Linked DNA regions of Homo sapiens. The protein of the gene in region 2 interacts with the protein of the main gene of each other region in a pairwise test. Each region holds a gene or a part of one and is shown on either strand. Other genes may lie near its edges.

Region 1 (3,500 bases), on a different chromosome or scaffold from region 2:
GCGGATCACAAGGTCAAGAGATCAAGACCATCCTGGCTAACATGGTGAAACCCTGTCTCTACTAAAAATACAAAAAAATAGCTGGGTGTGGCGGCGTGCGCCTGTAGTCCCAGCTACTCGGGAGGCTGAGGCAGGAGGATGGCATGAACCCGGGAGGCGGAGCTTGCAGTGAGCCGAGATCGCGCCACTGCACTCCAGCCTGGGCGACAGAGCAATACTCTGTCTAAAAAAAAAAAAAAAAAAAAAAAAAGAGTATTTAGCAGAGGCCAGGTGCAGTGGCTCATGTTTGTAATCCCAGAACTTTGGGAGGCTGAGGCGGGCGGATCATTTGAGGTCAGGAGTTTGAGACCAGCCTGGCCAATGTGGCAAATGTGCTGTCTCTAACTAAAAATACAAAAATTAGCTGGGTGTGGTGGTGCAGACCTGTAGTCCCAGCTACTTGGGAGGCTGAGGCAGGAGAATCACTTGAACCTGGGAGGCAGAGGTTGCAGTGATCCGAGATCATGCCACTGCACTCCAGCCTGGGTTACAGAGTGAGACTCTTCTCAAAAAAAAAAAAAAGTATTTAATAGTGATAAATCTGCAGTATTCTCTTGTAGTTTTTAAGATCATATTATTCAGTCAAAGAAAAGAGCTCAACTTGAAATATTTCCAGAGTTTAAACAATCTTACTAAGCTTTGATGGGTTGTATCTATTCTTAACATGTGAAACTTCCTTATTACCTATAATATACACTAACTTAAATATTGACAATTTTTTTCCAGTGGTTTAACTTGAATTCTCTCTTGACGGGTCCAGAATTAATATCAGATACATATCTTGCACTTTTCTTGGCTCAATTACAACAGGAAGGTAAGTAACGGCTGAACATTTTGTAATGTTACCTTTCGAAGTAGTTAAATAACCAGGCACATTAGATGACAGTGTGATAAAACTGTTTTTCTGGCAGTGGCAGTGAAACAATCTTTAGTTTTGACGTGGTGATAGGCTGTGATTTGGGTGACGCTGTTCAGTTAGAGTTCTCACTGACACCTGGCCCTTCCTCTTCTGAGGATGCTGCTTTCTTTGCAGCCCTTCTAAGTAATGGCTTTTTCTTTTATACATCACATATCACACGGCTGAGAGGAGGGATAGATGTTTTTCTTCTTTGCCTCTTCTAGGCCACTGTTCTTCCTTATAAACTCCAGTTTCTTTGAAATACATGCCCCTAACGGCTGGGCACGGTGGCTCACGCCTGTAATCCCAGCACTTTGGGAGGCTGAGGCAGGCGGATCACGATGTCAGGAGATCGAGACCATCCTGGCTAACACGGTGAAATCCTGTCTCTACTAAAAATAACAAAAAATTAGCCGGGGTGTGGTGGCGGACGCCTGTAGTCCGAGCTACTCGGGAGGCTGAGGCAGGAGAATGGCGTGAACCCAGGAGGCGGAGCTTGCAGTGAGCTGAGATCGCGCCACTGCCCTCCAGCCTGGGCGACAGAGCGAGACTCCGTCTCAAAAAAAAAAAGAAAAGAAAAAAAAAAGAAATACATGCCCCTAGATTAAACTATCCCTTGTCCTTTTGCACTCATCCACAAGTCTCTTTTCATCAGTGATTTTAGGATCTGACTCGTTGTCTTTTTCTCTACTTCAACTACTTTTATCATTCTTAATTATTTCTGTATCGTCAATCAATCCAGTACCTGCCTCTTAGTTTCAAAATCACTTACTCTTGCTTAGCTATTACCAGTAATCATAACCACTGTCAAATCTCAATTGCAAGCATATTACTCTTTAACTACCACCTCCTATCTTTAAACCATGTTTTGTCTGTTTTTTTATTCCAGCCATTCTTTAAACCCTACTGTGGGGCCCAAGCATTTCCTTTATACGCATTCTTCCTTTCTTCTACTGCTTATTTTCTGTAATCCGTCATCATAATCACTCCATTGCATTCTTCAACGTGTTTCCCCTCTCTCCCTCCATCATACTTGAATGACAAAAATCTCAACCCTGGTTAAACCACATCTTGGCCTTGTCCATTCCTGTACCAGAGTAGCTGGACGTGGCTAAAAAATAACATAAAACATGATGATTGGTTTTACTTTTTTCTTAAATGATCTATCCATCCATTCACCCATCCATCTATCAAAGTGACTAGGCCTATTTCTGAAGCCCAGGCTGGAGTGCAGCAGCATAATCACAGCTCATTGCAGCTCCAAACTCCTGGGCTCAAGTGATTCTCTTGCCTTAGCCTGTTGAGTAGCTGGGACTACAGGCTTGTGCTACCACACCTAGCTAAGGTTTTACTTTAAATTTATTATAATCACAAAATTCAGATGAGCCTTTAGTGCTGTCTGATATTTCTACTATGTTTTCTTAGTGATGTACCACCCTCCAAGGTGTTTATAAAAAATTATGTACCACTCTCCAAGAAGTTTATAAAAAATAATGTGCCACCCTCCAAGGTGACTAATTTCACAGCTTATGTCTTTAAACCTTTAAGCACTTTCCTCTCCCTTACACACCTTCCTTGTGGCTTTCCGTTACATTCTGCTGAGAACATAGAAGCAATTAAAATTATGTTCTTTCTACCAGCAAATTTATCAATTTGCTTATATCTTCACCTGTGCTTTGAGCCTATTTAAATAGATGAATGGTCCCCTACCTCTAACCAAAACCAGTCCCTCACTTGTGGGCTGGATCCCAGCTCTTCTCACCTACTCAAGATGTTCCTGCTTTCATCTCTCCACTCTCTTATATAATCAGTTCCCCCCCCCTTTTTTTGTAATATTCCTATAAGCAGTAAAATAAGCTTTTTATTTCCATTGATTAAAAATAAAAATCCTCTCTTAATTCCATGAAACTCCAGCTGCCTCCCCATTTTTATTTTTTCCTTAGGATTGTCTCTAGTGTGCCTTCTCCTTTTCTTGAACTCTGCCTCCTGGGTTCAAGCGATTCTCCTGCCTCAACCTCCCGAGTAGCTGGGATTACAGGCGTGCACCACCATGACCGGCTAATTTTTTTTTTTTTTTTTTGAGATGGAGTTTCCCTCTTGTTGCTCCGGCTGGAGTGCAATGGCGTGATCTCGGCTCACCGTAACTTCTGCCTCCTGGGTTCAAGCGATTTTCTTGCCTCAGCCTCCCGAGTAGCTGGATTTACAGGCATGTGCCACCATGCCTGGCTAATTTTGTATTTTAGTAGAGATGGAAGGGGTTTCTCCATGTTTGTTAGGCTGGTCTCCAACTCCTGACCTCAGGTGAGCCGCCCACCTCGGCCCCCTAAAGTGCTGGGATTACAGGCATGAGCCACTGCGCCTGGCCCCGGCTAAATTTTTTTTTTTTTTTTTTGTATTTTTAGTAGAGACAGGGTTTCACCATATTGGCCAGGTTGGTCTCGAATTCCTGGCCTCGAGTGATCCACCTGCCTCAGCCTCCCAAAGTGCTGGGATTACAGGCGTGAGTCACCTTGCCTAGCCATCTTTTAGTAATGGTATTTGGAGATCACAATTTGAGTGCTGG
Region 2 (3,952 bases):
TGTGCTAAGGAATCTTGGAGAGAAGCTCATCTAACTCTCTTAATGTACAAATTTAGGAACTGAGACCTCATTTCATTCAAGTGACTTGCTCCATGCTACACGGCTAGTCATTACAGAGCCAGAGGCCAGAGCATGAACCAAGATACCCTGGACTCTGTAACTCACTCATTTCTACTGCAACGTCTTGTTACCACCTAGATGAGGTGAGTACATGTTCCTCGCAGGGACACAGAATTACAGTTTATTGAATGTGTCCTGTGTGCCAGGCACCATGTAACCATGAGCCTATGAAGTTCACACTATTATTATCCTCATTTTACAATGAGAAAACTGACATAGAGAGTTAAACTATCTTGTCAAGGTGCCAAAATAAATAACTGGTGAATCTAGGACTCAAACCCAGCAGGGTCTGACTTCATAGTCTCAGCTCACGATCACCATATGACACCATCTGCACCAGGGAAGGGAAGGCATGCAGACCTGACTCTAATGCCAGCTAGGACGTGAGATGGTGCTACCATCTCAAGTGAAGAAAGAGGCAAGAACCAGACTTACTTTGCTCACACTTGAGTCCACTGAAGCCAGGGTCACACTTGCAAGTGTAATTATTGATGGTCTCTACACATTCACCGTGGCCACTGCAGGATGTATTGGTACAGGCAGCTACGGAAAATACAAAGCATGATGAGGAGGACTATTACTGTGCTTATACTGAGTGCCTTTGATTTTAGAATCAACAGTGTGCAACAGAGACATCAGCAGTCCTACAGAGTGCCATAGACTTTAACTGAAGTGTTTTACAAAGTTCCAAATCTGAGTTTCAGGCCCACCTATCCTAAACCTTGATGCTAATGTATAGCTGTGGCTGGCACCTACCGTAGAAAATTTACTTCTTCACAAACTCTGAAGACAGTTCCCCTACCACAAATAAACAAGTAATTAAAATATGTATTGTGTGTGTGCATTTTTATATGTAAAGAACTACATATTTGCCTACAGTATTTATATATATTTTATATATATACATACACACATATATGTGTGTATATGTGTGTATGTATATATATAAAATGTATATAAATGCTGTAGGCTATATATATATACACACACACATATATGTGTGTGTGTATATATGTGTGTGTGTGTATATATATACATATCCACATATTCTTGCCCACATTCACACAAAACAGCAAAAGAGAGAAACTTTAGCAGTTAAACAGAATCTTTTGGAACATAAAATGACCACAATAGAGAGCAGTTTTTGCATGCTGTAAATTTGCCAAGATGCCCACACACTGAAACTACCTCCCACTGCTGCCGCAAACTCCCTACCTGTGTAGCATAGGGCAAGCTTCTTCTTGCTGCACCTCTCATCATTCCACATGCCCACATCTTTTTCTCTCTTGATGTAGATCTCCACGCAGTCCTCATCTTTTTGCCTATTGTTGGGTTCACCTGGAGCCCAGTTCTTGGCTTCTTCTGTCAGAGGTTTCTGGGTTCCTACCCAGACCCACACATTGTTGACTTTTCTGATTCCAATCCAGTAATAACTTGGTGAATAGCTCAATATGGAGTTTAGGTACTCAATCTCTTCTTTGTTTTGAATTGCAACCAGGTGTGTGTACCTTTGCTGACAATAAGCACTGGCCTCATCATAAGTCATAGCTTCCGTGGAGGTGTTGTAAGACCAGGCTCCACTCTCTTTAATGAGAAGCACTAGTGGGAGAAAAAGAAAAGAAATGGTAGAGTTTGGTACTGTTGTGGTTTAACTCTGACAACTGTGCTTTTTATTGTCTTATTTTTGGCAATGTTTGTGACATGGCCCAGACTTTTCTCATCTTTTCAAAAGTAAGAAGTACGTATGAAGAAACAGCGACTTATTGTTTATCTCTTTTGTGACTGCCACCCACTAGGTACCTTATCCACACTCACTCACAACATTATAGTATACCCATTTTGTAGTAGAATAATAATCAGAATAACTAAGCTTTATTGAGCACTTAGTATGCACCAAGAAGCACTGTATGAGGTACTTTCCATGAACCATGCTATTGAATCCTCACAATGCATCTGGGAAATAGGTCATTATGATCCACACTTTACACTTAAGGAAAGGGAGACACCAAGAGGTAAAGTAAATGACCCCAAGCCCAGGGAAGAACACATTGCAGGTAGAGGTCAAGGATGCTGCCAGATATCCTGTGCAGGACAGCCCCAGACAAGCAAGGATATTTCAGTCTGAAATATCTATAGTGCGAGAATGAGAAATCTTGGTCTAATGGCACTGACTTACCCAAAGTGAGAGCTGAGAGAAACTGTGAAGCAATCATGACTTCAAGAGTTCTTTTCACCCAAAGGTTTAGGCTTGAAATACTTTCCTGGGGAGATAAAACACAAAATGAATTAAAGAAGGAAATCGTGGGTAGCTAGTTACATTATTCTACCATGATGTTTAAGGCAGCATCCTAAGATTTTGGGCAAAGGACACTAGTGCAATAATCTTTATTTCAGAGTTTAATCAAATAAATAAACAAATTTTAAGACTTTCATTATTTAGGTCAAAGAGAAAAGACAGGTTTTAGCTACAATACAATAAGAGCTTGTACAGATGTGGTTTTTATTAGAAGGCCTTTTGCATATCTGTGTTTCATGGCCCGAGGCTGCCCTTATAAAGCGTTCTGCACTTACCGTTTTGGGAAGCAGTTGTTCAAACACAGGATCTCTCAGGTGGGTATCACTGCTGCCTCTGTCTCAGGTCAGTATAGGAGTTTTGATGTGAAGTCAGCCAAGAACAGCTGAACACTACTTCGGCTGAGGCCCTTTTATAGGAGGGATTGCTTCCTGTGAATAATAGGAGGATATTGTCCACATCCAGTAAAGAGGAAATCCCCAATGGCATCCAAAAACTTTCCCGGGAATATCCACGATGCTTAAAATTACAATGATGTCAGAAACTCTGTCTCTTGAAGCTACTTCACCTTTGTCCATGCCTTTATATCGTATATGCAATTTTATTAATATGACAAAAATGCATGATTTTTAATTATAATAACATAAAGTCTATGTCTTTAAAAAGTTGTAAAACTTTGCTTGTTAGTAGTGTCTCTCATGTAGTTGTGGTAGTAATTAGAATTTCAGAAACAGAAGGAAACCAAGAATAGGTTTGTCATCCATAGTCTACTACCTTCAATTTCTCATTCATAGCTGTGGATAACCAATCACTACTCATTTTTTCTTCCTTTTTCACCTGCCAATTCAACATATTTAACATGCACTGTCTCACAGAGGAATGACTCACAAGGTAGATATTAATCTTCAGATTTTGCACGGCAGTTATGCCTAAATTAAAATATTATCTAAAAATAATATCTAACACTCAAATGGTTAAAATAATGCCTTATTTTAAAAAAAGAAAAATGGGAAATAGATATTTACATCTGGGAAAGTTTCATGGTTTGTTCAGTGAAAAAAATAAAAAGGAGGCCAGGCACAGTGGCTCACGCCTGTAATCCCACCACTTTGGGAGGCCGAGGCAGGCGGATCACCTGAGGCCGGGAGTTCAAGACCAGCCTGACCAACATGGAGAAACGCCATCTCTACTAAAAATACAAAATTAGCTGGGCATGGTGGCGCATGCCTGTAATCCCAGCTACTCGGGAGGCTGAGGCAGGAGAATCGCTTGAACCCGGGAAGTGGAGGTTGCAGTGAGCCAAGATCACGCCAGTGCACTCCAGCCTGGGAAACGAGTGAAACTCTGTCTTAAAAAAAAAAAAAAAAAAAGAAAAGAAAAGAAAAAAAATAAAACGGAAAACTATATATATATATTTAATTGGTCAAAATTTTGTTTAAAATTTTTGAAATGTTAATGTGCAAAGAATAAAAATTCTTCCACAATGTTAACAGTGACTAACTCTGGATGGCAGGATTTGGGATAATTTTTATATCCTTC

What was found.
Region 1: the proteins of SELE (region 2) and ATXN3 interact in binary tests that used the Homo sapiens proteins (3 or more experiments, as listed by UniProt).

Annotation. Positions count from the first base shown.
Region 1 is NC_000014.9:92,086,083-92,089,582, reverse strand, and holds part of ATXN3 (ataxin-3 reference isoform), read left to right. Parts: intron 1-765; coding exon 766-853; intron 854-3,500. UniProt on the Homo sapiens protein: Deubiquitinating enzyme involved in protein homeostasis maintenance, transcription, cytoskeleton regulation, myogenesis and degradation of misfolded chaperone substrates.
Region 2 is NC_000001.11:169,731,280-169,735,231, forward strand, and holds the start of SELE (E-selectin precursor), read right to left. Parts: upstream 2,801-3,952; 5' UTR 2,692-2,800; intron 2,382-2,691; 5' UTR 2,334-2,381; coding exon 2,297-2,333; intron 1,720-2,296; coding exon 1,336-1,719; intron 664-1,335; coding exon 556-663; intron 1-555. UniProt on the Homo sapiens protein: Cell-surface glycoprotein having a role in immunoadhesion. Mediates in the adhesion of blood neutrophils in cytokine-activated endothelium through interaction with SELPLG/PSGL1. May have a role in capillary morphogenesis.